2 separate regions of the Homo sapiens genome follow, and region 2 is linked to region 1. Evidence: fine-mapped expression QTL. A gene starts in region 1. The other region holds a variant in brackets. All regions are shown on one strand. Distances are from middle to middle. Region 1 holds the start of RNF157 (ring finger protein 157). Region 2 overlaps RNF157 (ring finger protein 157).

Region 1 (15,335 bases):
TGTTTAAGACACTGTCCAACTTTCCAAAGTGGCTGTACTATTTTACATTTCCCATAACACTTCATAAAGATTCCAATTCCTCTGCATTCTCAACATTTGACACTGTCTGCCTTTTCTATTTTAGTTATCCTAATTCTAATAGGTGTGAAATGGTATCTCATTGCAGTTTTAATTATATTTCCCTAATGGCTGCTGATGTTGAGTATCTTTCCATGTGTTCATCAGCCATTCCTACATCTTTTTCAGTGAAGTATCTATTGAAATCTCGCATATTTTTTTTTTTTGAGACACAGTCTTGCTCTGTCACCCAGGATGGAGTGCAGTGGCCCAGTCTCCGCTCACTGCAACCTCTGCCTCCTGGGTTCAAGTGATTCTCCTGTCTCAGCCTCCTGAGTAGCTGTGACTACAGGTACCGGCCACCACGCCCAGCTAATTTTTTGTATTTTTAGCAGAGACAGGGTTTCACCATGTTAGCCAGGATGGTCTCGATCTCCTGACCTCATGACCCACCTGCCTCAGCCTCCCAAAGTGCTGGGATTACAGGCGTGAGCCACCGTGCCTGGCCTCTTGCACATTTTTTAATTGGATGGTTTGTCTCCATAATATTGAGTTGTAAGAGTTCTTAATATTGATACACATCCTTTATGTGATTTGCAAATATTTTCTTTCAGAAAGTGGCTTGTCTTTTCAACTTTTTACTGTCTTTTGAGGTGGTAATGTTTTTAATTTCGAAGAAATCCAATTTATTATTATTTTTTACTTGTATGGATTTTGCTTTTGGTGTCACATCTAAGAACTCTTCGCCCAATCCAAATCAAATAACATTTTTCTCCTATGTCTTCTTTTAGGGGTTTCATTGTTTTTGCATTTATGTCTATGATCCATTTTTATTTTTTTATTAGTGACAGGGTCTCAATCTGTCACCCAGGCTGAAGCGCAGTGGCACAATCATAGCTCACTGCAGCCTTGAAATCCTAGGCAAAGCAATCCTTCTGCCTCAACCTGCCGAGTAGCTGATATCATGCCACCATGCCCAGGTAATTTTTAAAAACAATTTTTGTAGAGACAGGGTCTCACTCTGTTGCCCAGGCTGCTCTTGAACTCCTGGGCTTAAGCCATCCTTCAGCCTTGGCCTCCCAAAGTGCTGGGATTACAGGCATGAGTCACCATACCCAGCCCCATTTTGAAAATAGCTTTGTGGAGATACAATTTATATACCACAGAATTCACCTATTTAGTGTGTACAATCCAATGGTTTTTAGTATATTGACCGTGTTATACAACTATTCACCACTATCTAATTTTAGAACACTGCCATTATCCCAAAAAGAAATCCATTAGCAGTCACAGCTCATTTCTCCCTCTCCTCAGCCTCTGGCAGCCGCAGGCACAGCCACTGCGCCACTGCCACTAATCTACTTTCTGTCTCTGTGGATTTGCCTCTTCTGGGCATTTCTTATAAATGAGATTATTCAATAGATGGCCTTTTGCACCTGGCTTATTTCACTGAGTATAACATTTTCAAGGTTCATCCAGGTTGTAGCACATATCAAATCTTCATTCCTTTTTATTGCCAAATAATATTCTATTGTGCAGACTTACCATATTTTATTTATCAGTAGTTCTATTCATCGGTTGATGAACATTTGGGTTATTTCCACATTTTAGCTATTATGAGTAATTCATGTGCAAGTTTTTATGTGAATGTATTTTCTTCATTTTTCTTGAGCGTATACCTAGGAGTAGAACTGCTGAGTCATCTAGTAACTAGCCATCTGAGAAACTGTCAAACCGTTTTCCAAAGTGGCTGCCCCATTTTACATTCACACCGGCAGGGTATGAGGGTTTCGCTCTCTCCATATCCTTACCAGTACTCGTCATTATCATTTTTTAAAATTATAGCCATCCTAGTGGGTGTGAAGTGGTATCTAATTGTAGTTTTGATTTGTATTTCCTTGAAAGTTAATAATGATCATCTCTTCAAGTGCTTATTGTCCACTGTATATCTTTTTTGGAGAAATGTCTATTCAAGTGCTGTGACCATTTTTAATTGGGTTGTCTTTTTATTATTGAGCATATGAGTTCCTTATATATTCTAGATACAAATTCTTGTCATACCTATGATTTATAAAAATTTCTCCCATTCTCTGAGTTCTCTCTTTTAACTCTATAATCCATTTTGAGTTAATTTTGGTGATGTAAAGAATAGGTCTGAGTTCATTTTCTTTTTTGCTCATCCCAGCATCATTTGTTGAAACCACTATCCTTTCCCCATTCAATTGTCTCGGTACTTTTGTCAAAATCAACCGAAAATAAATGTAAGGATTTCTGGTTCATAACTCTGTTCCACTGATCTATATGCTCTTCATTGTGCCAATACCACACTATCTTGATTACTGTGGCATTATAGTAATTATATGCATAGTAACTTTTAAAATAGGGTAGCGATAGTCCTCCAACTTTGTTCCTTTTTCAAAATTGTTTTGGATATTTTAAAGTGTCAAACTGTGCCAACCAAATAATTCCTTATTTTGTAGTAGGTTACTTTTTTTTTTTTTTTTGAGACGGAGTCTCGCTCTGTCGCCCAGGCTGGAGTGCAGTGGCACGATCTCGGCTCACTGCAAGCTCCGCCTCCTGGGTTCACATCATTCTCCTGCCTCAGCCTCCCGAGTAGTTGGGACTACAGGCTTCTGTCACCATGCCTGGCTAATTTTTTTGTATTTTTAGTAGAGACGGGGTTTCACCATGTTAGCCAGGATGGTCTTGATCTCCTGACCTCGTGATCTGCCCGCCTCGGCCTCCCAAAGTGCTGGGATTACAGGCGTGAGCCACTGCGCCCAGCCGTAAATTGCATATTTTTAAGTGTATGGTTTCAAATCTAATATTAAATTGATACTCCTAAAGCTAGGAGAAACTTACATTAAAACTTTTATAGTTATTCGACAAAGACTTATTATCCATGCCTTTAAAAACTGTTCTTGCAATAGGAAAGACCCATTTGACAAGAATATGTGTACTCTAAAATAACAAAAATTTGGAGAATGATGATGTAGACAGATGTGATACATCTATGGCTGGGTACGGTAGATCACTTCTGTAATCCCACTGCTTTGGGACCCCGAGGTGGGAGGACTGCTTGAGACCAGGAGTTCAAGACCAGCCTGGGCAACACAGTGAGATACTGTCTCTACAAAAACTTTAAACATTAGCCAGGCATGGTGGTATGTGCCTGTAATCCCAGCTACTGAGGAGGCTGAGGCAGGAAGATCGCTTGAGCCCAGGACTTTGAGGTTACAGTGAGCTTTGATAACACCACTGCACTCCAGCCTGGATGCCAGAGTGAGACCCTGTCTCTAAAAATAAATTATTTAATTTTTTAAAATCTACAATCAGTTGACTTTAAGTAAAGGAGATTATCCTTGATTATGTGGGTGGGCCTCTAGTCAGTTGAAGGCCTTAAAAGCAAAAACCCGGGTTTAACCAAGCTAGCTGGTCAGGACTCTGATTACCATTCTGAATTTCTGTAGTAGGTTTACTTCTTAAAGACTTCAGCAAAACAAATTATTCCTATTTTCCAACTTGCCCAAGTATGTGGAGGGAAACAAACTAGATTTATGAGGTACTGCTTTATATAAATTAAACTGTCTTTATATTATGCCTATTTCTTCCTGGATAGAGAAAACAGGCTTTTATCAATGTGGACTTTTATCAACGTGGATACTTCTGTCAAAAGATGAGCTTCATAAAAGCAACCATCTCCGCAAAGCCATACCTTTCTTTGCTAAACAAATGATCTTGGGCTTTTAAAGATGCAAAGATCTTAGAGAAGCATGTATGACTTCTAACTCAAAAATTACAAAAGTACATCCAAATACAGTAGAACCGTGCTCTAAATTGCTTTCTATGCTAATGTAGAAATGCTATACAGAAACTCCCACCATACTTTCTATTACTTAAATGATTAATATTCACACAATTATTAATAAATCTAAAAATCACCTAATGCATAACATTATTCATTGTTGCACTGTTTGCAATAGTAAGATACTGAAAAAACAACTCACAGATGTTTATCAACAGGAGACTATGTAAAAAAAAAGATGGCATATGCATGCAGAGGAATACTATATAGTTGTTAAAAAGCACAAAGAAACTTATCAAATATGAGACAATATAAAAAGATCTCCAATATCTCTGAAAGCAAACAGAGCAAGGTGTAGAACAGTCTAATAGCATGCTATGCTTGCATTTACACAAGAAACTCTAAAAGAATTCCAAAGAAACCAAAAGTGGTTACATGGGATGGGAGGTTTAGAGGGAGGAAGGAGAACCAGGTGGATGGACAACAGCGGTGAGAACAAGGCTTTCACTGTACACGTTTTCATTCTTTTAAAGTTTGAACCGTGTGACTATATTACCTATTCAAAAATAAATAATTCTAAATAATTTAGGCTATTTATTTCTATCTACCTCTATTTAAGGATAGAAAAAAGCTACAAACCCAAGTCTCAACTTGAAATCTGCCATTCTTGATAGGATTTAAATGTTTGTTTCAATGTGCATACAAAACTAAGAAGTTCCATTAAATATACTAAGAAAAAAGCAATTTCAGCTGGACACTGTGACCGTCATTACAAGGACAGATGATGGTGCTTCTTTCCGAAACAACTGTTCCACCGGCAGTGCAGGTCTAGCCGCTTTCCAGCGAGCCAGATAGTGGTCTCAACTTAACACTCAAACTACAAGGTATGTCATCTGGAGAAAGCTGACTCTGCCACTTGCTTTGTTCCACTGTTAGTACTCAGGATAAGGAGACTTCTCAAAATCAACCCAGGTTGATTCCTCTATAGGGACTTCAATTATGACACGAAATAGCCTTCATTCCATAATCATGGAATGATTGTTTTAAGTCTTGTTTTTTGAGTACAAGTTCAAAACCCAATTCCTTGAGAGGTGGAGGCAGACAGTATAGTAGGAAGAACACTAACTGGCTGAGAGACCCTGGCCATACCAATTCATTTCTCTGGGTCTCCATTTTCTTATCAGTGAAATGAATGGGAGGCCAAGGCGGGAGGATTGCTTGAGACCACGAGTTCAAGACCAGCCTGGGCAACATAGTGAGAGAGTGTCTCTACAAAAAACTTGCCTGGGCGTGGTAGCTCACACCCGTAATCCCAGCACTTTGGGAGGCCGAGGCAGGCGGATCACCTGAGAGGTCAGGAGTTCAAGACTTGCCTGGCCAATATGGTGAAACCCCATCTCCACTAAAAATACAAACAATTAGCCGGGTGTGGTGGCAAACACCTGTAATCCCAGCTACTTGGGAGACTGAGGCGGGAGAATTGCTTGAACCCTAGAGGCAGAGGTTGCAGTAAGCCAATATTGCACCACTTCATTCCAGCCTGGGCGTGACAGAGAGAGACGATGACTCAAAAAAAAAAAAAAAAAATTAAACATTAGCTAGGCATGGTGGTCATGGCCAAACTCTGTCAACGGTTCCTTTCAGGACTAATACTGTAATCCCATAAAGAGCCAGGTCAATTCAAAGATCAGAAGAAAGGCGATGCCTCCGTCTAGAGCATATATGCAAGCTCACATAAGGTTTCAAATACACAAAGGTTTGCTGACAGAGACAGGATGTTCTGATTCTATTTTCTATGTTTTAGCTTCAACAGAAATAATGTGGTCCACTTGCTATAAAGACTTCTCTCATGTATAACTTCTGATTTAACATGAATTACAGTTTTACAGTTAAACTTTTAAAACTGGTAGAGAGGAGAGGATTATTTATTGAGTGTGCTAATTAACAAAAGTTTTGGTTTGGTCTATTGTCTTTTTATTATCATCACCCAAGATTCATACTTGTACAAATATGCTTTGGGGAACAGCCTTCCAGAGGTTTACCTATGTTAAGTCCCACATATGAAAGAGCGGTGAATACTTTCCTGAGGCAGCAAACACTATTGAAAATTCCAAGCTCAGCAAAGTATGCTCCATATTTTGATCAATAAAAGCCATGTGGTTTAAGAAAAACAGAGCCCACAAATACTGCTGCATATTTTTGTCTATTTTAAAAAGTTTTCCTCATGCCGCCCTAAGAATATTTTTGTCTATTAAAAAACAAAATCTATGCCTTGGTTAGCGTTGATTTTATGTAGTCATAATCAGTCAGAGCTTTATTAAAATACTAACGACCCACAGCTTTATCTTAGACCTTTCTAAAACAATTCTTCACCATATTCATCTTTGCAAGGATTCATTCTTTGGTACAAAAGCAGTGAGAAACACAGCTCTGGCAGACACTCTGCAGGGATGCGGGCAGGTTCATCGTCTGGCCCCTGCTTTCACCTGGCAGACACTGGACACACTGCTGAGAAACCAGCTCATCTCAGTATGTCTCTATTCTACCAAAAAGAGACGAGGCTCTGCTCCAATTCTGACACCTCATTCCGAAATCACCAAAATCTCCATCGGGTCCTAAGCAGACAGAATGTCGCAGCCATTCATCCTCAGAAGTCTTGAGAATAAAATTAAAAGTAATTAATTAAAATAAAACTACTTGCAATTAAAAGTAAACACCGGCTAGGTCATGCAATTCATACTGGCCGGTGCTCACATAACTGAACTACCTTGTGATTCTCTGCTTTGCTGTCAAAATCCTCCTCCACCTCCAATGCTGATACCACAATCCAGAGGCTAGAGACATTTAAGTGAAGGGATGATTCTAATAACAAACATACTTCTATACGTTTCCAATACCTCTGCCCTGTCCCAGAGCTGGTCCCACTCCAAAACCCAGGCTTGCCACTACGCTAGCAAAGGGGCAATCCGAGTAACTCTGATACTCAGATTCCCAAACATTTCTGTTACTTTCCACCACCACCACCCCCCCCACCCCCCGGCTTCTGACAGCCTCTGCAAAAGCACCAGCACTGCAAATGCCTGTTTGGCTTCCATCCTTCAGCAGGCAATGGAAGCTTTTCCAGGAGAAACCTAATTCTAACCTTTCCAGAGGCCAGGAGACGGCAGCGCAGGGATAGCACCTGGCGCAAGTGCCTGTTTGGATGCCGAGGTCGCCTCCCTCGCGGCCCTCGGACCCCGCGAGGCAGGTAGGCTTTGGGCCGGGCCGGCCGGGTCCGTGCGGGGCGCCGACCTCGCCTACGACGCCGCAGCCCCGCTCCCCAGGAGCCTCGGTCCCTGCGGGCACGCGTCCCCGTCACGGGGCCGATTACAATGGAGGCCGCTCCCGTCCTCCCGTGGAGGGGCTCGGTGCCCTCGGTGACCCTGCTAGACCCGGCAGGACGCCCCTTGGGCTAATTCGCCCGGGGCGGGGGAGACCTCGGCCTTCTCGAAGACCTCCCGCGCTCGAAGACCGTTTCGGAGCGTCCGCAACCACTGAGTCCCCGAAGACCCGCGGGGCCCCCTCAGGCCGTCCCGACCCAGACCCCTGCCCCTGCCCCTCTCCCTCCTCGCGGCTGCGGCGCCCGCCCGCCCTCACCGGACTTGGGCGGGTAGCGGTACACGGAATTAGACGGGATGTCCACCTCCTCCACGCCCGCGTGCTGCCGGCTCGTCAGGGCCCCCATGGCCGCTGCGGCTGCAGCCCCGGCCCGGCCCCGGTGCCCGCGCCGCCCTCCGCGCTTCACCGCGGCCGCCCGCCCCGCGCCCGGTGCGGGGGCCGACTGCCCGCCGCGGCCGGCTCCGCTGCGGCGCTGCGGCTCTGGCGGCGGGGAGCCCCCGGCGCGCCGCGCACCATCCTCCGCCGGGCACCGCGGCGGCGCCTCTGCCAAGGGGGCTGCGGGTCTGGGCCGGGGGCGCCGCCGCCGCCTCAGGCCGCGTGATGTCAGCGGCCGCTCCGCGCGGGGACCGCGGCGGCCCCAGCCAATGGCGAGGCGGGGCGGGAGCGCCCGCGCCGGAGCAGCCAATGAGCGCGGGACTGCAGCAGGAGCCGGCGGCGCGTGCCTCGCGCGGGGAGCCGCGGCTGGACTCGGCGCGCGTGGACGCGGCCCAGGGCCTCGCGGCGGGGGCGTGGGCGTGGGCGGGGACTCGCGACGGGGACGGGGGCGCGGCCGGGTGCCCGCGGCGGGGCGGGGCGGGACCGGCCGGAGCTGGGACCCCAGGAGACGAGCGCTGCACCCGGCCGGGACGCGTCGCCCCTCCGCGCCTGTTTATCCCGGCTCGGATTACCGCGCAGGGAGCCGCCCCCTCCCGCGGTCCGCGAGGACTGGCCGGGAGCTCGCTCGCCATTGTCCTGGGCGTCCCAAAGCGGGCGGTCCCCGCTCCGCTGCTCCCGCGCCTGGAGGAAGCCTTCCCAACCCCGCCCCTCAGCGTCGGCCGGCGGAGGTCTTCGGAAATCTCATGCAGGGGGGTAGGGAGAGGGGTCCCACGGTGCATTCGCATGTCTCCTGCCCCGTGTTAATGCTGGTGACCGGCTAGGAAGATGCCGCCTCCCTCTCACGTGCGTCTATTCAAAGCGCTCCCAACTCTATACATGCTGTTTAAGGCTCCTTGTAGCCCTAAAGTTAGGAGAACATCGACTGAGGATAAGATCAAGACATCCAGCCTCTGTCTGTATCGTGGAAACGGGACCCCGGAAACTTTGGAAAGGCCTGAGTGCCAAGAGAGTCAACGCAGGCGAAAGCGAACCGGGCCAGGCAGAACCGGGAGCTCCTGTTGATAAAAACACACACAACAGTGGGAAGCTTGGGCCGGCGGAAGACGTCATTCCATTGCTTAATTACAGACATTTGTGTTTTAAACCTTCTATTTTCTTTGTGGGTCTGGTGTTTTTTTTCCTGAGAGAGTGGACTGATCAGCAAACATTTCAACTGCTAGAACATGACTTTCACAACTTTTCAACAGTGTTCGAAGTACAGTTTGGGGTGTCTGGTTCCCTTGATTAGGTTTGTAAAGCTATTTTACGGAGTCTAGGTCTTTCCTGGTTATATTTTGTTTTTGTTTTTCTGTGTTTTGAGACGGAGTCTCCCTCTGTCGCCCAGGCTGGAGTGCAGTGGCGTGATCTCAGCTCACTGCAACCTCCGCCTCCTGGGTTCAAGGGATTCTCCTGCCTCAGCCTCCCGAGTAGCTGAGACTACGGGCATGTGCCACCACACCCGGCTAATTTTTCTACTTTTAGTAGAGATGGGGTTTCACCATGCTGGCCAGACTGGTCTCCAATTCCTGACCTCCGCCCCCCAAAGCGCTGGGATTACAGGCGTGAGCCACCGCGCCCGGCACATTTCGTATTTTTCATTGCCGTCTTTTCAGCAGCAGCCAACAGACCTGATGCTAAGTGCCTTGGTTTCCTCCAGGGTCCTCAGGATGGTGGGAACACATCCCTGTCATTTATATTGGCTGCTGCTAACGAAGGCTTGGGTTACAGGGCAAGTCCCTGCCCCGGCAGCTTCTCCCAAGCACCAGAGCTCTCTGGCAGAGTCCCTGGTCCTAACTACTCCAGGGCTTTCAGTCATCCCTGTGGGAGGGAACTGGTGTCCTCCTCCATACTCCTTTCAGCACACACAGGCCCTACCTTGTAACTGCTGGGTAAAGGTAAAATGCAAATAAGAATCTAGAACCACCTCAAAACACAAGGCCTTCGACACATCACAGAGTAAAATGTTGCCTTATGCTCCTCGGCTCTGTTCAGAAGCCTTGGTTCTTCCTGCCCTCGGCATTTTGTAAACGGGACATCCCTTCCCTTTGTGGGTTTATCCATGTCTGAGAGTTTCTTCTGCTTAGCCAGGGCCAGGCAGGGATGTGGCTTAGTCAAGCAGCCCAGTCCTGTTGCTTATGGGGTGTCTCTTCTGGTCCCACCTTGGCCTGACCCTGGGAAGCCAGCTTCTCCATCTTGAATAATACTCCCCAAGCCTAGAAGTTGGTTCCTCCTCCCACGAAGGAGTCATGAGTCCAATGCTTAGAATAGTAAAGAAAAACAAGGCATAGCACAATAAAATTAGTGGATATTTATGGAACACTCTATGTGCCAGGCTGTTTTAAACACTTCACACGTATTAAAGCATTCAACCCTCCCAACAACCCTATCAAATACATGCTATTTACACCCCGATTTTACAGTCGAAGAGAATGAGGCACAGAAAGAGCACTAGACTTTGAGTTGGACAAATCAAACCCCTAAGCAGCTATGTAACTTTGACTTAAGCCCTTAGAAACGGTCTCCGTTTCCTCCTCTGAAAATAGCCCAGTCTCCAATGGTTATTGCAAAGATGCAATAAGTGAATCAAGACTCTTTTGTTTTGTTTTGTTTTTGAGACAGAGCCTCACTCTGCTGCCTAGGTTGGAGTGCAATGGTGTGATCTCGGCTCACTGCAACCTCCACCTTCCGGGTTCAAGTGATTCTCCTGCCTCAGCGTCCTGAGTAACTGGGACTACAGGCGCCCGCCACCACGCCCGGCTAACTTTTGTATTTTTAGTAGAGATGGAGTTTCACCATGTTGTCCAGGCTGGTCTCCAACTCCTGACCACAGGTGATCCGCTCGCCTTGGTCTCCCAAAGTGGTGGGATTAAAGGCGTGAGCCACCACACCCAGCCAAGACTCATTTTTAAAAGAATGTTGACCAGAGACAGAAGAGAAACGGATAGAAGGCAGTTTAGAAACTTCTAGATCAAAGAGACTTTTTGTGAATTGAGCTACAGTCCCACAGTCTACAGTGTAATCACCTAGTGTGAACAATTTTGGAAATAGAATCTCAGCCAGTGCCCTGGGCAAAGGCGAGATAAGCAGCTAGACCCTCGGAGCAGCCGACTCTAGAGGGGCTGAGTCCTGCATTCCTCTATGGTTCTTCCCTGGCTCCACTTGGCTCCCTCGCCAAAGATCTGGGCCAGGGAGAGTGCCCGAGGGAGAAGGCAGCTCAGATAGGAGGAAAAATCCAGAAGTGACTGCACCAAGAGAGCCATAAAAATGTTTTTAACTTGAAAAATGGTCTGGGGAGGGGTTGCACAGTGTGCATAGGGAAATCACATGCAAATACCACACGTGCTTTGTGGAAATAGCCTTGTAGCACCCTATCCATTTCCACACTATGGATGCAGCCCTTGGGAGAATCCCAGCAGACAACACAACATCCAAGGGTCTCAGCGGTTTTCTCTAAACATCCCTGGAAGGCAAGGGGCAAAGCCAGGTATTTCTATCACATTGAAGCTCTTCTTCTGCAACTTGGGTCTAAGGGAGAAAGGAGAAGGGTGGGGGAAGTACGGGGACAAGTAATTTTTAGGTGAGCTTGTCCCTTTGGACTTTTCATTTTGTTCATGTTGCTGTCCTGGTTTCAGCCCAGATGTGCCATTTCCACCCTTGTAACACATGCAATGATTAGCTTAGTGCAGGAAGGAGTGAGGGAGCCTGCAGGTGGAAACTGACAGACACAGCCCTGCAGCACAGCATTCCTGAGGCAGCAGGGTTTGGGAGGCAAACCAGTATCTCAGGTGACCTGAAAGAGCTAAGAAAGGTCTCTGATTTTGGGACAGGAAGATGAGAATCTTGGCTGTTCTTAATGAGTACCAGCTCTCTCCAGAAGATAGGGCCCAATCAGCCACACATGGGCCCGATCCCTCTTTTAGTCCTCGACATGTGGCTTCGGTGGATTGAAGCCAAAACCACCAGCGGAGAATGTCACATCCTGCTCCAGATCAGTGGGCTAGGCTAACGTCGACAGAATAGTCTGATCCTAAATGCTTTGGGGCCCTGCAGATGGTTCCTCTGGCAACCTAAGGCTCTCTGTAGAGGAAAATAATCTTGTCCATTAGGAAATCCGCAATCAGGCTTTCATATTTTGCTTTTTGCTGAGTGTGAATTCCTCATTGTTAATTTCGTCCTCCACTCTGGGCTGCCAATAAAGAAGAGTTGTTCAAATGGATGCAGACTCCAGTCCAGTTTGTAGCCTATTAATCTATTTTTCAAGTTAAGACTAAAATGAAAGATGATGTTTACACGGCCCAATGTGTTGGGGATAAGGCGAAGTGAGTGGGGCACCCAGAATGTCAACTTTAAGTTCTCATTCTCAGCCACGCACAGTGGCTCACACCTGTAATCCCAGCACTTTGGGAGGCCAAGATGGGCGGATCACGAGGTCAAGAGATCGAGACCATCCTGGCCAACCCCATCTTTACTAAAAATACAAAAATTAGCTGGGCATGGTGGCACGCACCTGTAGTCCCAGCTACTCGGGAGGCTGAGCCAGGAGAATCGCTTGAACCCGGGAGGCGGAGTTTGCACTGAGCTGATATCAGGCCACTGCACTCCAGCCTGGCAACAGAGCAGGACACCATCTCAAAAAAAAGAACAGTTCTTACTCTCAGTGTCATGCAATTGCCTCACCTGCCTCACTCTGGTTCCAGCCCTGCTGCCCAGGCATCTGGCATTGGAGAAATGAGGGGCCCAAGACTCTATTTATGTTTACAGACTAGTTTGAAGAAATTGGGAGAGTCTGTTCTATTTTTTGTTGTTTCTATCAAATACCAGACCTTGTAAGCTTGGTTCTACCTGTTCACTTCTGCCTTCATTCTCTTCCTTGTTGGTCCTGCTCTTCTTTTGGCTTTGAGCTCACTCCACCTGGGACTACACATTCTGCATCCTAAAGTTGGTGTAAAAAGAATGTGCGGGCTGGGTGCAGTGGCCCACGCCTGTAATCCCAGCACTTTGGGAGGCCGAGGCAGATGTATCACCTGAGGTCAGGAGTTTGAGACCATCCTGGCCAACATGGTGAAACCCCGTTTCTACTAAAAATACAAAAATTAGCCAGGCGTGGTGGCACACGCCTGTAATCCCAGCTACTCGGGAGGCTGAGGCAGGAGAATCGCTTGAACCAGTGAAGCGGAGGTTGAAGCGAGTCCAGATTGCGCCACTGCACTCCAGCCTGGGGCCACAGAAGGAGACTGCGTCTCAAAAAAAAAAAAAAAAAAAGTGTGAGGCTAACATTTCAGCTTGGCAGGGCAGGCCTGGTAGCTCACACCTGTAATCCCAGTGCTTTGGGAGGCTGAGGTGGGAGGATTGCCTGAGCCCAGGAGTTCAGCACCAGCCTGGGCAACATAGTGAGATCCTATCTCTACAAAAAAAATATTTAAAAATTAGCTGTGCAGGCCAGGCGCGGTGGCTCATGCCTGCAATCCCAGCACTGGGAGGCTGACGCGGGTGGATCACGAGGTCAGTAGCTCAAGACCAGCCTGCCCAACATGGTGAAACCCTGTCTCTACTACAAATACAAAAATTAGCCAGGCGTGATGGCGCGCGCCTGTAATCCCAGCTACTCAGGAGGCTGAGGCAAAAGAATTGCTTGAACCCGGGAGGTGGAGGTTGCAGTGAGCAGAGATGGCGCCACTGCACTCCAGCCTGGGTGACAGAGCAAGACCCTGTCTCGAAAAAAGGAAAAAAAAGAACATTTCAGCCCAGCATCGACTCCAGCTGCCCTTCTTGGAGAAACAGACCAGACCAAATAGGCACAAAGCCCAGCGTCTGCCTCTTGCTACCTAGAAAAGGTAGAATGTGGAAGCGGCAGCGTGGTGACAGCCCCAAACCTTTCTTTAACAAAACAAATACTCACCTGCGGTTACTTAGATCAAAAGAAGAAAATAACAAACAGGGTTTCTTGAAAATGCCTGTCCTGGCTAGATGGTCAGATTTGGAAGGAATCTCAAAGGTACAGCCCCTCCCCTGACAGATGAGGCAGCTGCAACCTCTACAGGGTAAGGGGCTTGCCCAAGACCATACAAGTGGTAGCCATAGCTCAGAACCCAGGGATCCCTGGCTCCCTGTGCACTGGGTCTTGATATGGGAAGCTGGTGCTATGCTGGTTTTATCTCTCTCTGTCTCTCCTTGGTGAGCCATCTCCTACAGCTGTCATAAGAGGACAAGCCGACTTGAGGTTGAGCTCTGAAGCTCAACACAAGTGCACACACGTGTTCAGCTGTTGCAATATCAGTGTGAGCATGCAATCAACTGCACTCACAGGAAAGTTGTCTGTAACTGTGCTCAAGTCAGAATCAGAAAACCACTGAGCTCCTCTCAGCTGGAGACTCCCTGCACCCTCCCTCTGCTCTTCTGAAACTGGAGCTGAGGTCAGGGCTGCAGAACTGAACTGATCAACCAGTCACCTAACTCCTCCCAGGCACAGGAACCAAAGGGCTGCTGAGAAAAGAGAAATGAGAGGCCACTGAGGGTTAGGAGATCAGATTCTTAGCAAGTAGGTTAAAAGTGCCGTATGCATGCTAATAGTGTGTCCAGCTAAAGTCTGAGTGCCAGCCAAAGTCCACTACAGACAAGCAATTTGTTTACAATGACACATTTATTTCTGAGCAAATTGCTTGTTTATTTATGTGATAACTACTATCCTATTAGGGTATTTCAAAGACTGTGTGTTGATCCTGACAAAGTAATAAACAGAAATACCACTCACTGTTATGGTTCTCACAGTAAGCTATTGGAAGCCTTAGGTCTTTTTTACGCACCATGAGGTATATATTTATTACATTGTTAGCCGTATCCTGTTATCTTTTTTTTTTTTTTTAAGATGGAGTCTCTCTGTCACCCAGGCTAGAGTGCACTGGCCTGATCTCGGCTCACTGCAACCTCCACCTCCCAGGTTCAAGCGATTCTCCTGCCTCAGCCTCCTGAGTAGCTGGGACTACAGGCGCACGCCACCATGCCCAGCTAATTTCTGTATTTTTAGCAGAGACGAGGTTTCACCATGTTAGCGGGGCTGGTCTTGAACTCCTGACCTCAAGTGATCCACCTGCCTCGGCCTCCCAATGTGCTTGGATTACAGGCGTGAGCCACCACGCCTGGCCCTGTTATCTTTTATTTTATTATTATTTTTTATAATAATAATATATAATAAATATCTTTGTTTATAAAGATATAAATATAATAAATATAATAAACATATTTATTTTTTGTTGTTGTTGTTGTTGAGACAGAGTCTCATTCTGTCGCCCAGGCTGGAGTAAAGTGGCACGATCTTGGTTCACTGCAACCTCCGCCTCCCTGATTCAAGAGATACTCATGCCTCAGCCTCCCAAGTAGCTAGCTAGGATTGTAGGCATGCGCCACCACGCCCAGCTAACTTTTTGTATTTTTAGTAGAGACGGGGTTTCACCATGTTGGCCAGGCCAGGCTTAAACTCCTAGCCTCAGGTGATCCACCTGCCTCGGCCTCCCGAAGTGCTGGGATTACATGAGTGAGCCACTGTGCCTGGCCCCTGTTATCTTTTATATTCCAAGATGAAATCTGTGTATGAAAAGAGGTCTGGTAATTTCATTAGCTTCCTCTCTGGTTTTCCTATTTTCCTACCTCTTGGTCTTCCTTCCCCTTATCCATTCTCTAAATT
Region 2 (15,335 bases), 72 kb before region 1:
ATCTATAATTTATTCTAGATTTTGAATGTTTTGCTTGGTTTGCTGTAATGTTTGTTTGGTTTGATGCTCTTAATATAGTTAACTAGTTACTCCAGCTGGAATTTATTTGGTAAGGAGTAAAGTGCTAAACTAATTTTTCCTCCTGAAATAGCTAACTAATTATCCCAATACCATTCACTAAATAATAATCTCTCCCAGCAGTGCGTTAGTCTAAAGAAAGACAGTATCTGCTGCTCTCTAACTGCAAAGCTTTGAGGTTTCACCCTAATATCAGCACTTACACTAGGAAACTGAAGTCAGTTACTTTATCTCAGGCACTGAGGCCACAAAACAGGATAAAGAAAAACAGTTACTTTCTTCGAGGATTCAAATAAAGATAATAAATTGTATTTAAATCCAAAATAATCGTCCCATTGTTTCTGCCTGGGGGAGTTCAAGTTGAACCTCACTGGAGTGAAACTGCAAGCAGATGGCTCTAGGAATGGTAAACATTAACTGGACACCAAGTTCCCAAGGAGGAAAAGGGAGGTTTTCAGTATTCAATTTTCCACAGTAATAAGTTGGTTTTAACGCATGCTCTCAGCCGGCTTGCTAAATACTGCAGCATGCCCTGGTCTAATTCCTTGCTGCAATGCCACGTAGAGAAGCATGAAAAGTTTAAAAAAGCCAATGAGGCATTTGCTTCAGAGGGGCCGTGGTTCCGAGCCCAACTTACTGGATGCTCTTCAGAGTCAGATGTCTGGGATGAGATGATGGGGTTAAAGCTGGTTGGGGACAAGGGGCCCAATTTTTTCCTCATGGCTCGGATCTGAAGCAGTGCCCGGAAGGCTGTGAAGGAGAAAACAGGCAATCAGGACATCCTGATACAGGATTAAGAATGAACAAGAGCCCAGACAGAAACCATGATCCCTCCCAGCGCGCATCCGTTTGTCAGATCCAGCAGCAGCACATGCTTCAGTGTTTTGTAAATGTCCTCTTGTCCCCTCTCCCACCCACCAGTCCCCCTGCCGCTCTGGGGCTTACGCAGTCGGCAGATGGGGCAGTTGTTGGCCTGGTAGCGCAGCGTGTCTGCACAGGTGTTACAGAGGCAGAGGTGGCGACAGGGCAGAATCAAGGTGTCCCGGACATCCGAGAGACACACCACACACTCGGCACTGTTATCACTCACTTCGTCTTCAGCCACCTGGCCAAGGAGAAAGAAATGTAGCCAATGGCACAAAGCCCTTCCTGTCCCATACTTTACTGACAAGGCAGCGTGGCTGAAGAGCTAAGATAAGTAATAATTACGAACAAAATCTGCATTGACATTGGACTTTGTCATTTTCCCAGTGCGTCCACACACTTAGCTTCACTTCTTCTGGGAAGTGTTTATCTAAAATTGAGAGGACGAGACTAACCACTCGAGCTCCTCCTATAAGGCCCAGAGCTGGGCCTCTCAAATCTCAGCTGAAGGGACTTAGGGGATCACACAGATAAAGGAAAAGGAGCAAAGAAAGGGCCCTGGTGGAAACCGAGTTGGACAGAGCTCTGTGGCAGAACAAAGCCAAACCAGCCTACTTTTCTCATTTCCAAAGTGGTAAAAGCGTAATGATCTGAAATGAGGAACAAGAAAATACCCTTCTAAGACCTAACTGATTTCAGAGTTTGGCACGCTAAATTTCTGGACGCTGGCTTACGATTTCTCACTTGGCCTCCTGGAAAGAGTACATTCAGAATTTTGGGTAAAACTTACCTTAGAATCTTGTGTGTTGTACTTGTTTTCAATTCCATAGATCTCCTGAAGGAGGTAGCTGACCCCGTCTACCTGAACAGCAAACAGAAAGGTTCAAGGACAGGCTGTCTCTACTGAGAGACAAGAGTGGGAACTCCCTCCAATCTTACCTCTTTTGGTAACCAAGGACTACCGATTCATAATGAGAAAAAAAATCAAAGGCCTGGATAAGTAAAAGATGCTTTTATTTACTTATGTTTTCTCTTTGAGAGAAGAAAGAAAATCAAATATTTAATTCACCCATCATTATATACAACAGGGAACATAAAATTTCACAAATACAATAATAATACTTGCACTGCAGCATACTATTATGGACAATTAAGAAGGCACAGACTAGAAAAAGGATGGAAGGGCATGCATTAAAATCTAGGCATTTGCTATATAATCCAATTTGAGTTCAGACATTATACAAATAAAGGAATGGAAAAGAGAAAGAAAAAGAAGAAGAAGTTGGCAAGGAAAAAGATGGGAAGGGAAAATATGGATGCAAAGGGCGATAGCAAGACCTTGAGGGAGAGGCTAATGGTGTGTACCCCACACCATGAAGCCACCCCATCCCCAACATGCAGCAAAATTACACCTCTTGGCCCTGTTTCCTTTTTTTTTTTTTTTTTTTTGAGATAGGGTCTTGCTCTGTCATCCAGGCTGGAGTGCAGTGGCACCATCTTGGCTCGCTGCAACCTCCACCTCCTGGGTTCAAGCGATTCTCCTGTCTCAGCCTCCTGAGTAGCTGCGATTACAGGGTGTGCACCACCATGCCTGGCTAATTTTTGTATTTTGTGGTAGAGACGGGGTTTCACCATGTTGACCAGGCTGGTCTCAAACTCCTGACCTCAAGTGATCCACCTGCCTCAGGCTCCCGAACTGCTAGGATAACAGAGATGAGCCATCAAGCCCGGCCAGCCCTGTTTCTTAAAACCCCAACTACCAAGGCCCAATCCCACTCCCATTAACCTGGGCCATGTCAGTGTCTAAGTTGGCCCTGCCCCATTTACTTTTAGGAGCACACTCTTCTGCCTCACCTCTGTTTCTTAGCCATCCCTTCCCCTAAGACATAGCCTGTCGCTGATTTTATATCCCACTCTCCGTTTTAACAGTCTGTTGCTAATGCCAATCTAACAAGAGGAAAATGGACAAACCATCTTCCTCTAGCTACACGAGCCTTTCCATCCCATCCAGGCCTCCTGGAGAACCAGGCCTTCCCCCATGAGGCAACTCACCAAGGCCTGGCCTGCCCAGGTAGTGCCCTGGGCCTGAGCCCAGGATCTGTTTCCTCCTCTGCTGCTCTTAAAACTTGTTTTCATGCAGTGATTATATTGGAAAACTAATTTATCCTAAGATATTCTTATTATTGACCTCATTAAAAGAGAGGCGAGTAATTAACCTAAAAGAACGAACAGTGTAGAATTTCAGGTATCTATCACCCATCTACAGGAAGGCTTTTCTTTGCATCTCGAGGAAGCCCAACCCTGCCTCCTACCCAGCTGCTCTACACCCTCCGTGAGATGACCTGCCCCTCACCCACCCTCCCTTGCCAATGCCACTGGCACCACTCTCTCTCCTCCCAGTGATGTCTCCTCCTACCTCTACAAGAGTGGAAAGAAAAGTGCTGGCACATGGTAGGGGCTGGGACTTTCTAGCAGACATATGCACAAGGTGCTGATCATTCTGGAAGAGGGAGAATGGATGGCTAACTTTGAATTTTAGAAAAGGAATGGATAAATTAAGCCAATGACTCTAATTACACTAAATTGGACCCTAATGCTTTATCCTTTCGCTTGAAATGTTTCTCACTCTGGCATTTTAAATAAAAAGAGTTCTCCCTAAACCCAATGTTGGGAAATAAATCTTGTTCTTTCATTTCTCAAGTCCTTTGCTCAGATAAAGGCTCCCTCAACACCAACACTTCTGGAACAATGAAGACCTCAAAAATCAGCATTCCTTTCAGGCCACCCAAGTCGTTTGTAATAGCTTGTAACATTCAAAAGCACTCCCTTTTTTTCTTTTCTTCTTTGATTAAAAAAAAAAAAAGAGGAAAAGGAGAGAGCAAAAAGTAAAACAAAAATAAAAAAAGAGGGAGAGAGAAGAAGAAAGGAAAGAATAAAAGGAAGGAAGGACCCTAATACTAACAGTCTGTGGTCTTCAAATACTTACTACTTGTTTCTGTTTGAGGGGCTTGACACAGAAAGTTCCATCTGTGTGCTGGAATGAAAATATGAAAGTTATGACAAGGAAGGGAGGGTAATAAAGCACCAGGTATTCTTCTGTTACATCTCCCAGTTACAGTCGCCCTCCCTGATCTGCAGTTTCATTTTCCATGGTTTCAATTACCCGCCATCAACCACTGTCTGAAAATATTACATACAATATTTTGAGAGAGAAAGATCACATTCAGACTTCTATTACCTTATAGTTATAATTGTTTTAGTTTACTATTATTCTTAGTCTCTTACTGTGCCTAACTTATGAATTAAACTTTATCATAGGTGTGGATGTAGTATGGGAAAAACCACAGTGTATATGAGGGTTCTGTACGATCTGCAGTTTCAGGCATCCACTGGGGGTCTTGGAACTTATCTCCTGAGGATAAGGGGGGACTACTGTACACATGTTCCTGGACACTCTCAGAGCAGAATTATACAATCCTAATTCTTTAAAGGTCTTATAATTATCCAGTCTAGCCTTTCTTTCTTTTATTTATTTATTTTTTTTGAGACAGAGCCTCACTCTATCGCCCAGGCTGGAGTGCGGTGGTGCCATCTCAGCTCACTGCAACCTCTTTCACCATTATAGCCTCTAAAGCCAGACCCATTCTGCTGAGCTCAGGCACCCAGCAAACGGGTTACATGTGTCTCACACGAAAGAAAGGGCTAAAGGCAATAAAGCGAGGCCCTCTAAAGTCACTCACCTTCTCAAAAGTACCCAGCAGTACATGGCAATGGCCAAAATACTCTGAAAGAAACAAAGGCACGTGAGTGAAGAAGCCCAAACAGCACATCTTGATGCCCATGACTTTCTCCAGTTCCCTGCAATCTGGCAAACCAAATGTGCCAGTCTGTCTCTAGAAGGGGCACGTTATATAACCCATACTTTTTTTTTTTTGAGACAGAGTCTGGCTCTGTTGCCTGGGCTGGAGTGCGGTGGCATGATCTTGGCTCACTGTGGCCTCCGCCTCCCGGTTCCAGCAATTCTCCTGCCTCAGCCTCCCAAGTATCTGGGATTATACGCATGAGCCACCATGCCCGGTTACTTTTCTGTATTTTTAGTAGAGACGGGGTTTCACTATGTTGGTCAGGCTGGTCTCAAACTCTTGACTTCAGGTGATCTGCCCGCCTCAGCCTCCCAAAGTGCTAGGATTACAGGGATGAGCCACTACGCCCAGCTAAACCACATTTTTTTGAGACTGAGCCTCACTCTGTCACCCAGGCTGGAGTGCAGTGGCACAATCTCGGCTCACTGCAACCTCCGCCTCCCAGGTTCAAACGATTCTGCTGCCTCAGCCTCCCAAGTAGTTGAGATTAGAGGTGCACACTGCCATACCCAGCTGATTTTTGTATTTTTAGTAGAGACAGGGTTTCCCCATGTTGCCTAGGCTGGTCTCGAACTCCTGACCTCAGGTGATCCACCCACCTCGGCCTCCCAAACTGCTGGGATTATACGTGTGAGCCACTGTGCCCAGCCAAACCCACACTTTTCACATCAGCCCAGGAGCTTGGAGTCACAGATGTGAGAGGATGCAGAGACTGCCTGACTCACAGTCACAAACACCCACAAAGAAGGCATGTTGTTCTGGGGCCACAGCTGCTGCCAGGAATATGCCACAAAAGAGCAGTGTGCACAGCCAAAGAGGACAGAAATCGCCCCTACCGTCTCCTTCATCCACCACGGCATGTACCACTAGAGGGTAAACTTCTCGGTCTAAATCAAAGCCAAGCTGAAGGGAAAGAAAAGGAAAGGAAAAAAAAAGAGGACTTAACACATTTACATGGCACAGCTAATCTCAGAAAGGGCGATACTGTCAAGAAGCATTAATCTCATCTCTGCTCCTCATTCTTTAGCCTTGTTAATTACCCAAGTTTGTTAACTGAGGGCCATCAGCTGCTTTTTAAAAATGTCATAGATGTAAATAAGAACCTCTAACCTATAGATTTTTTTTTTCTTTGAGCATGGCTTTCTCAAAGTATCCTAGGCTAATGGGCTATTTCCATTCCTAGGGAATGGAAAAATTAACAAAGTTAGGTATATCCTTGATGCAAAATAAGCAGAGCTTTAAAAGGACATGATGAAGTCACAAGGCTGAAAGGTAAGCATGGCCTTCAAGCATCCGAGCAGCCCCTTTGCTGTCAGACCGAGTCCTAAGTAGCCCCTAGGCCCTTCTGAGTGGATGTGGGAAACCCTCCCCAGAGGCAGCTCACCTCCTCTTCGGCCCACTCGGAGGGATCCACGGTGTGGGAGGGCAGGCAGAACTGCTGACACACTCCTCGCTTGTACTGCACAGTCTCCGACTGGAGGCTGTTGTCTTTGGGAATGTAGCTATTGATACAAGTGGGAGGCAAAGCAAAAGTCAGTATCCGGCACAGATGGGTCTGACAACTTCCTCTGCTCATGCCTGTTCTCAATTATCAACAGGGTCTAGCGAAGAGAAGAAAGGGTCCTTTATAATCCATTTCCTTTGCTCTTGCTTGGCAACGTTAAACTTTTCTATTCAACCCACACATCCAAAGAAAGGTAGCTTACTAGATTTTTAACAGCATGTTAAGGACCTGAAGGACTATACCACCATTTGTCACTATACCAAGATGGCACAATTTGAAGGGAAAAGGTAAAGGGTAGGGCTTTGTAGAAGAAAGTCTAAATTCAGGAACCAGATCTCATCTGGCTGCAGAAAAAGAATGTTTTCCGCCCTTGCTGAGTGGATAAGACATGGACTCTCCCTATCTGGGAAGGAAGTGGCTCGCCTGGTCTCCTGATCTTACCTGGTAATACCATTCTGGAACTCTTCCGTGGCCTGGTAATAATCTGGGAAGGAAGTGGCTCTCCTGGTCTCCTGATCTTACCTGGCAATACCATTCTGGAACTCTTCCGTGGCCTGGTAATAGATGGTGATGGCTACCCGAGCATCTGTGTCAAAGGTGAACTCAACATTGTAGTGGACTTTAGCTTTACTGGCCTCTTCTCCAGGGCTCTTCACTTCCTCAGCACATCTAGAAAACCAGAGACTCAGCATTTGCAGAGTAGCATATCAATATTTTAAAATTTACCTTTAAAAAAATTAGCAATATATTGTGGGCTTCTCTGAATGATCATAAGCATAGGTCTACCTCTTCATTCTGAATGATCACAGAGTGCTTCATGACCCATGTTGCTGGGCATTCAGGTTACTTCTGGTATCTCATAGTGCTACCACTACACCATTGTGCATTTGGCACTTTTGTTTTTATTTTAATAAAAGTTATTAATCACATAGTTTAAATAGTTTCCTCAAGGCAAAAAACAGCAGGCCTTACTTCTTCCCTTTCCTCGTCTTCAGAGGACACCCCTTTTAGTGATCATTTTGGCATTTACCCACGTTTCTAAAAAATATACTTGGGTTACTACTTCTTGATTTTTCAGTTTCAGGCGCTATCTATGGGTTTCCTACTATGGAAACAAGGATTTCTTTCTCTTTCCTCACTGTGCTCCATGTAGGAACTCCGCCATCCCCCCAGTGTAGCTGCATCATGATTTTATTATAATAGTCCAGTACATTTGTGTCTGTATTACTGTGATTACACAAACTTATAATCTATGATTATTTTTCTTTTCCTGCATAACTTTTTCTTAGTGCTCATCCTATTTTTTTTTTTTTCTTCCAGTTGCGTAGTTTCCTATGTACTCATCACAAATTCCAACCCAAGCTCTCTGGGGCTGTCTAAATCTCTCAAGACGTTCAGATGCACCAAGCGGTCTATTCATTTCATCTTATTGAGGAGGTCCCTTGGACTTGCTCCCATCTGTACTTGGCCCTCTGCACCTGGCTCCCAGTCGCCACCCTGGAATCTCTCTCCCCCTCCAACATCCTGGTGGGTCCCTTTTGCCTCTGTCCTCCTGTAGAAGCTCATGTTTCCTGCACCTCAAGTCTTCCTCTGTCTTGGGTTATTCTTTCATATCGGTGGAGCACGTGTCCTGCCAGCTTCCTGAAAAAGGGTGTGTTGGGAAATAAACTTTTGAGAGCTATTATTCAACATTCACACTTCACTGAAAGTTTGGCTGAGCAAAGTATTCTAGATTATAAATAATTTCTAAAAGACACTGAAAGCCTTTTCACTGCCTTATTTTTCACCTCCCAGCGTTGCTCCCAAGAAGTCTGAAGTCGTTCCAACTGTTGATCCTTCTTCTTCTGAAAGCTTACAGACGGTCCTCTTTCTCAGCCACTGTGTGGGCACTTGGTGGTCCTTTCCATTTAGAAACTTGTACCCTCTGGTTCTGAGAAGTTTTCTTAAATTCTATGTCACTGATGATTTCCTTCCTTTTA[C/T]ATTCTCTGTTCTCTGTAGAACCCGTTAGTTGGATGTCAGACCTTCTAAATGGGTGCTCTATTACTTGCGTCTTTCTTCTTCTATTTTCCTTCTCTCTGGATTTTTGCTCTACTTTCTAGAATATTTCAAGTTTTCTTCCTATCATTCTATTGAAATTTTCATTTCTGCTCCCTGTTTTTAATTTCTAAAAGCTATTTTTTTGGTTTCATAAACACTTTGTGTCATTGTGTCCATGAAAGAAAAAGATAACTTCTCTCATGTCTTTGAGACTATTAATGAAGTTTTCTTCTTCCTGCATAGCTTTTGTTTCCAATTAGATTTTTTTTACTTTATTATTATTTTATATAGAGATGGGGTCTCACTATGTTGCCCAGGCTGGTCTCAAACTCCTGGGCTTAAGTGATCCTCCTGTTTTGGCCTCCCAAAGGTCTGGGATTAGAGGTGTGAGCCACCACACCCGGCCTAGTTAGGTTTTTTTTTTTTTTTTTTGAGATGAAGTCTTGATCTGTCACCCAGGCTGGAGTGCAATGGCACGATCTTGGCTCATTGCAACCTCTGCCTCCTGGATTCAAGTGATTCTCCCGTCTCAGCCTCCCAAGTAGCTGGGATTATAGGCGTGTGCCACCAGGCCCAGCTAATTTTTTTGTATTTTTGTAGAGATGGGGTTTCTCCATGTTGGCCAGGCTGGTCTCGAACTCCTGACCTCAAGTGATCCACCCGCCTCACCTTCCCAAAGTGCTGGGATTATAGGCGTGAGCCACCGCACCTGGCCTAGTTAGGTTGTTTTAAAATGTTGGTTTGTTTTGCTACTGTCTTTCCTATTATAGGCATTCCTTACACATCTAAGAATCTGTGGCTGTCTGCTTGTATTTAAGATATTTAAACTGCTGATTAGAGCTCTGAGTGCACAGCAGGACTTGGGGATCCTGGGCTTCACTGTGGGCTGACCTGGATCTGTTGAGGAACCTCTAACTCTAGTCTCTTAGGTTTTCCTATCCAGGCAGGTCCAATTTCCAGAAAACAGTTTTCCTCTCTCTTGACAAAGGCCTGGCTGCCAGCATTCTAGGGGCAGAATGGAGAGGCAGCTGGAGGGCTCAACATCCAGTATGCCAGGATCCACTCACCTGCTGTTTTGTTTTGAGACAGGGTCTCACTCTTGCCCAGGCTGGAGTGCAGTGCTGTGATCGTGACTCATTGCAGCCTTGACCTCCCTAGGCCCAGGTGATCCTCCCACTTCAGCCTCCCAAGTAGCTGGGACTACAGGTGTGCACTACCATGCTTGGCTAATTTTTGTATTTCTTGTAGAGACAGGGCTTTACCATATTGCCCAGGCTGGTTAGCCTGTTTTTAGTACTGGCCATTAGCTGTGCCTGGGTCTCTCTTGTCCAGAGATTCTCTGTTTTGACCTTTCCAGGGAGAGTCATCTGCCTGCCTTTGGCCAAGGTGTAGGAATGTAGTTCTGGCTGTGTGGTACAAGGGAGAGGATCTGCCTACCTTGAAGGCAGACTTTCTACCAATCCTCTTCATTTTAGCCTCCCACCTCAACTTCTAGAGGGACCTGGCACTGCTAATTTCTGAACCCTTTGGGGGATAATATCACAGTATAAATTGGGTGATTCTCAGCTTTTCTTTCTGCTAGTTCAGGATTCTGATTTCCTGGGTCTACTAAGTCATTTAACGTTCACTATGTGTTTCCAGCTTCTAAAATGTTGTTGCTGTTGCTCTCTTCCCATTCTCCAAATATTTACAGATTTATGCCTTTTTAAAGAAATTTTTAAAATTTTTTATTTATTTATTTTATTGAGATGGAGTCTCACTCTGTCGCCCAGGCTGAAGTGCAGTGGCACAATCTCGCCTCACTGCAACCTCTGTCTCCCGGGTTCACATCATTCTCCTGCCTCAGCCTCCCAAATAGCTGGGATTACAGGTGCCTGCCACCATGCCCGGCTAATTTTTTGTATTTTTAGTGGAGACGGGGTTTCACTGTGTTAGCCAGGATGGTCTCGATCTCCTGACCTCGTGATCCGCCCGCCTTGGCCTCCCAAAGTGCTGGGATTACAGGCATGAGCCACTGCACCGGGCCTTATTTTTTATTTTTTAGTTGGAGTCTCACTCTGTCACCCAGAGTGGAGTGCAGTGGTACAATCTCGGCTCACTGCAACCTCTGTCTCCTGGGTTCAAGCAATTCTCCTGCTTCAGCCTCCGGAGCAGCTAGGATTACAGATGCGTGCCACCATGTCTGGCTAATTTTTGTATTTTTAGTAGAGACGGGTTTTTACCATGTTGGCCAGGCTGGTCTTGAACTCCTGACCTCGGTGATCCGCCCGCCTTGGTCTCCCAAAGTGCTGGGATTACATGCATGAGCCATCATGCCCGGCCAGATTTATGCCTTTTAAATACATGTTTATAATTACTTAATGGGGTTTTCAGAGGAAGCAAAAGTAGGTGTTCAATCCTCCATCTTTACCTGGAAATCCGAGAATCAGAATTTATTCCCATAATCACAGAAAAACAAAACAAAGAACACCCTTCAAGTTAACATTTATTGAACACCAGGTGTTTTCCCTTCTGTTACCTTAATTTTGACAACCACCATGAAAGGTAAAGTTGATTATCACCATTTTACAGATAAAAGAACCTGAAGCTCAGACACTCATTCAAGCAAGCATCTGTGGACCTGGGAGGCAAACTGCTCTGCTGCTTCCAAGTCTGGTTCTTCTAGCGCATGACAGCTGCTTCATCCTATTCTAGAGCTGCAGCCAGGCTGCCACGGCAGAGGCTATGACCTCACAGCAGCTCAGGCCCTTGAATGGTCTCCATCAAATGTGTGAATGTGCCATATGTGATGAGAGAAACCAAGTGGACAGAGTAGCTGGCAATGGCAGGCCCCAGAGGCCTCGTTAGTCTGCTCTGCTGCTGGATGAACTCCCCTGGGTCAGGTCGGGGGACTGTTCTGCAGCAGACAGGTACCTCCTTGAATCTCTCCTCCCCAGAGTTGACCCTGGGGTGGAGAGAAGCATAGCTGGGGAACCAGCAGAAACTTCAGGGACAAATAAAATATAAAAAATTAAGAGAGAGAAACAGAAAATAGATTAGTGGTTACTTAGGGCTGGGAGGACTGCTTGAGCCCGGGAAGTTAAGGCTGCAGTGAGCTGAGATCGTGCCACTGTACTGCAGCCTGGGTGACAAAGTGAGACTCTGGGCCAGGTGCGGTGGCTCACGCCTGTAATCCCAGCACTTTGGGAGGCTGAGACGGGCAGATCACCTGAGGTTGGGAGTTCAAGACCAGCCTGACCAACATGGAGAAACTCTGTCTCTACTAAAAACACAAAATTAACCGGGCGTGGTGATGCATGCCTGTAATCACAGCTACTTAGGAGGATAAGGCAGAAGAATCCCTTGAACCTGGGAGGTGGAGGTTGCAGTGAGCCGAGATCGCAGTGAGCCGAGATCGTGCCATTGCACTCCAGCCTGGGCAACAAGAGCAAAACTCCATCTCAAAAAAAAAAAAAAAAAAAAAAAAAAGGCGAGACTCTGTCTCAAATATATATATATATATATCAGACAGAAACATTGTAATGCTAATAAGGCTGTTCTATACAAGCATGAGATGGTCTCTGAGTCATCTTCCTTGCCTATTCAGAAAAATCTGGGACCTTGATTTGCCCTAACCAAATTTTTTCACCAGAGAATCAGACAGCCTTGGTAGACATATCATCTAGGGGTGGCGGGCAGTGGGAATGTATCAGACTAAAAATTACACTGTCTCAAGGATGGCACCAAGAAGGCAAATGACGATAATTAACATTGATGATGAGGATTAAGCAACCAACCCAGTGCACTATGAGTTCCTTAGAGAACAGACACATGATATAGGGAATAAAAAAGAAAAAGAAGGCTGGGCGCGGTGGCTCACGCCTGTAATCCCAGCACTTTGGGAGGCCAAGGCAGGTGGATCACGAGGTCAGGAGATCGAGACCATCCTGGCTAACATGGTGAAACCCCGTCTCTATTAAAAATACAAAAAATTAGCCGGACGTGGTGGCGGGCGCCTGTAGTCCCAGCTACTCGGGAGGCTGAGGCAGGAGAATGGCGTGAACCCTGGAGATGGAGCGTGCAGTGAGCCGAGATTGCGCCACTGCACTCCAGCCTGGGTGACAGAGCGAGACTCCGTCTCAAAAAAAAAAAGAAAAGAAAAAGAAAATATAGCAATAAAATAAAGGATTTGATATTCTAAGTTCAAATTTCCCATTTTTACATTGGCTTGTTGGAGTAGCTGCAAAAATTCCCATTTTCCCTTAATAATTCTTCTTCCCTTTTAAAAAATATCCATAAAATAAGGATACTAAGCATTTCTAGGCAAGCGAAAGTTTTTCACAAACACAGACGATTGCATCCAGTGCTGAACAACATGGGTGTGGACGGCCTGATCTCAGCAGAAAGTAGCGCCCGCACTCCTGTCTGAGGCCCAGAGAAGCAAGCTCTGGGGCTGCCGGAAACTGCTGTATGAGTTCCTTGGGAAGTCTGTCCCCCAGCCCCCAGCCTCCCCAAAGGAAGGTGCCTGGGACCTGGCCCCAGCCTCTGGGAACTTACTTGACGAGCCTCAGTGTGTCCTTTCGGATATTGACCAGGCTTCTCAGAGTCTTCACGGGTTCTTGGGGAGGTGGGGCGGCGTAAGGAAACTGTGTCAGAAACAAAGCAGGAGAAGGTGGTGTGTTTAAAAAGACCCACAGCTGTCCCTCGCTTTACAGTTTGCCAAGAATAGCCCTAAGAGGTGAGGCAGGAAGGCACAACTCTCCTAATTAAGTGAGGAAACTGAAACTCCGACATACTGAGTCAACCTGCTCAAGGTCACAGCTAGCGGGAAAACTGGGATGCAATTTGGGGCCCAAAGAGCCAGATTTATCTTCTTTTTCCATTATATGAAGCTTATTTCGGTCAGTGTTCAAAACCTGGAGAATTAATAATAAAAAAAAAAACCGCTGAAGTTCCAAATACCAAAGGACACACTGTGGCCGAGTTAATCACAAAAGGCTTTTCCATCTGACCTCAGACGACAGGGAACCAGACCTGCAAGCCCTTTCCTTCGGTGAGGCCATGCGGTATCCCAGGAGTTTAGGGACCGCAAATAAAAGAGGGCCCCATCATGTGTACAGAGCTGAAGTTTGCAAACAGTAAAGAACAAACTTCCCCTGCAGCTGATCATATAAAGCAGAGCTCTTTAACATGTGAGCCAAGAGTTATTTTGGGGTCACCAAAGGTTTATGGTTGTCTTCATCATTTACCATCCGCTTCTTCCCCCTTTGCCCGTTTAGACCTTTGGATTTGAAGTTCTGAGTTGTTGATAATGATGAGATAAAGAAAGGGGAAATAGCCAAAAATTTCACTGGGAATTGCCTTCTGAGGATCAAGAATGATTTCAAATGTTCCCGGTATTTTTAAAATGTTATTTGGGCAATCAAAATGTTTTAACATATAATTCCCAAAAAACCTACTGGTCTCTGCAGCTTTGCAAAACTGTGGTTCTCTTGGCTCAAGAAGAGTCTACCTCCATAGTGTGGTATCACAAAACAGGACACCCAAGTTATAATCAAATTGTGCCCTCACAGGTTTTTATTGAATATGGTTATTTTACTTGGGAAACAATATAGTTAAACCATAGTTAAGGTGCATCTGACTTAATGTACGCAGTATAATTGCTTATAATTCACAGGTATGAATGTGACTCTTACATTCAATAGAAATTATCTTCATTCAGATTACTCACTTTGTGGGCATGATGCAGTAATTTACTTTTTCATTGATATATTAACCATACATTCTTTTAAAAATGATAGTTTTTTCTAATTACAAAGTAATATATGTTTAAGCAGAAAACTTGAAAAACACAAAAAAGTACAAAACTATCCCTAATTTTACTACTCGGCAATACCAAAATTAACATTATGGAATACGTATCTCCATCCGTCCGTCTATCCATCCATCCTGTCCACCTCTATATCTATGTGCTGTTTCACACTGAACATACTATTTTGCAGTTTCTTTTTCACCTAAAAAGATGTGGTAAACATTTTTAAAGTCCATAATTTTGATAACATTGCAGATAATAGCATACTTTAATCAATTCCATATTATTCAATATTTTATGTTGGTTTTACTTTTTTTCGCAGCTATAAATGTTGTGGTGAATATCCTTGTCCCTATATTTCTGCATGCTTGTTTGATTATTTCCTAAGGACAAATTCCTAGAAGTGGAATTACAGGATCAAAGAGTAAGCATATTTTTAAGACTTTAAAAATTATTTTGCCAAACAGTTTTCCACAAAGCTGACTCCAACTTTGCCCTCCTGCAAGCAGTGCATCAGGAGGCCTTGACATGGTAAAACTGAAATTCTAGTTCAGATCCCATCTGTGGCCTGTTTCTCCTCCCCCAACTTTCCTAGGCTGTCATACTAAAGGAATTTAAAACAATTTTTAAATAAGCTTAAGCAAAAAGTAATTAGGCAGGAAAATCCGACACAAACGCTAGTCTATTCTAAAGCCAAAATAAATGACTTTGGGATTAAAATTTTTTTCTGGAGTAGCAAAGTTAATCATTTTCATTTGTACAGGTACTTGGGCGTTATCCATAACTCCTACCTGCATTTCAAAAAAAAGATGCGTCTTTTCCCTTATTCTTTACTCTTTCTCCTCCATAGCCACTCCCTGCCGCAAAAGAGAGAAAAATAAAAAGAAAGAAAAAAAAATCCTGGCACTCTTTATCCTCCATTTTGAATATATTTGATGATAACTGTGGCAATGAAACATAAGCTATTTGGCTCTTAAGGAAAGGTATCAATGAGTTCAATTGTTTATAAATCCACCCCTATACTTTAGGCTCTCCCTGTACACACACATACACGCACAAGACAACAACGGCAAATCTGTTCAGGAGAAGCTTGTTCGTGGGCTGCTACCCACCAAAGTTTGTGCCTTGCTGGCCTTGCATTCATGCAATCAGAGTCTACATGCAACACTCCATGCCAGGAGTAAGGAGAGATTGAAAA

The links. PIP is the estimated chance that this variant, and not a neighbour inherited with it, causes the effect. A credible set is the group of variants that fine-mapping cannot tell apart.
Region 2: its variant is the best candidate, but not a certain one, in a credible set for the expression of RNF157 in whole blood (INTERVAL, PIP 0.70).

Annotation. Positions count from the first base shown.
Region 1 is chr17:76,232,655-76,247,989 of GRCh38, forward strand. RNF157 (ring finger protein 157) reads right to left here and starts at 7,839. Exons shown (of 19, transcript NM_052916.3): 1 at 7,499-7,839. The coding sequence starts at 7,586. It overlaps LOC105371896 (a long non-coding RNA gene), which reads right to left. Exons shown (of 6, transcript XR_007065913.1): 6 at 8,208-11,840. RefSeq lists an enhancer at 6,807-7,479 and silencers at 7,784-7,923, 7,944-8,013.
Region 2 is chr17:76,160,820-76,176,154 of GRCh38, forward strand. RNF157 (ring finger protein 157) reads right to left here. Exons shown (of 19, transcript NM_052916.3): 3 at 12,883-12,971; 4 at 6,832-6,978; 5 at 6,190-6,307; 6 at 5,642-5,708; 7 at 4,683-4,726; 8 at 3,929-3,976; 9 at 1,733-1,804; 10 at 1,024-1,183; 11 at 716-828. Among named protein-coding and RNA genes, the nearest start is that of FOXJ1, 27 kb to the left of the region's middle. RefSeq lists an enhancer at 5,994-7,193. The variant C/T (reference allele first, on the strand shown) is at 8,289.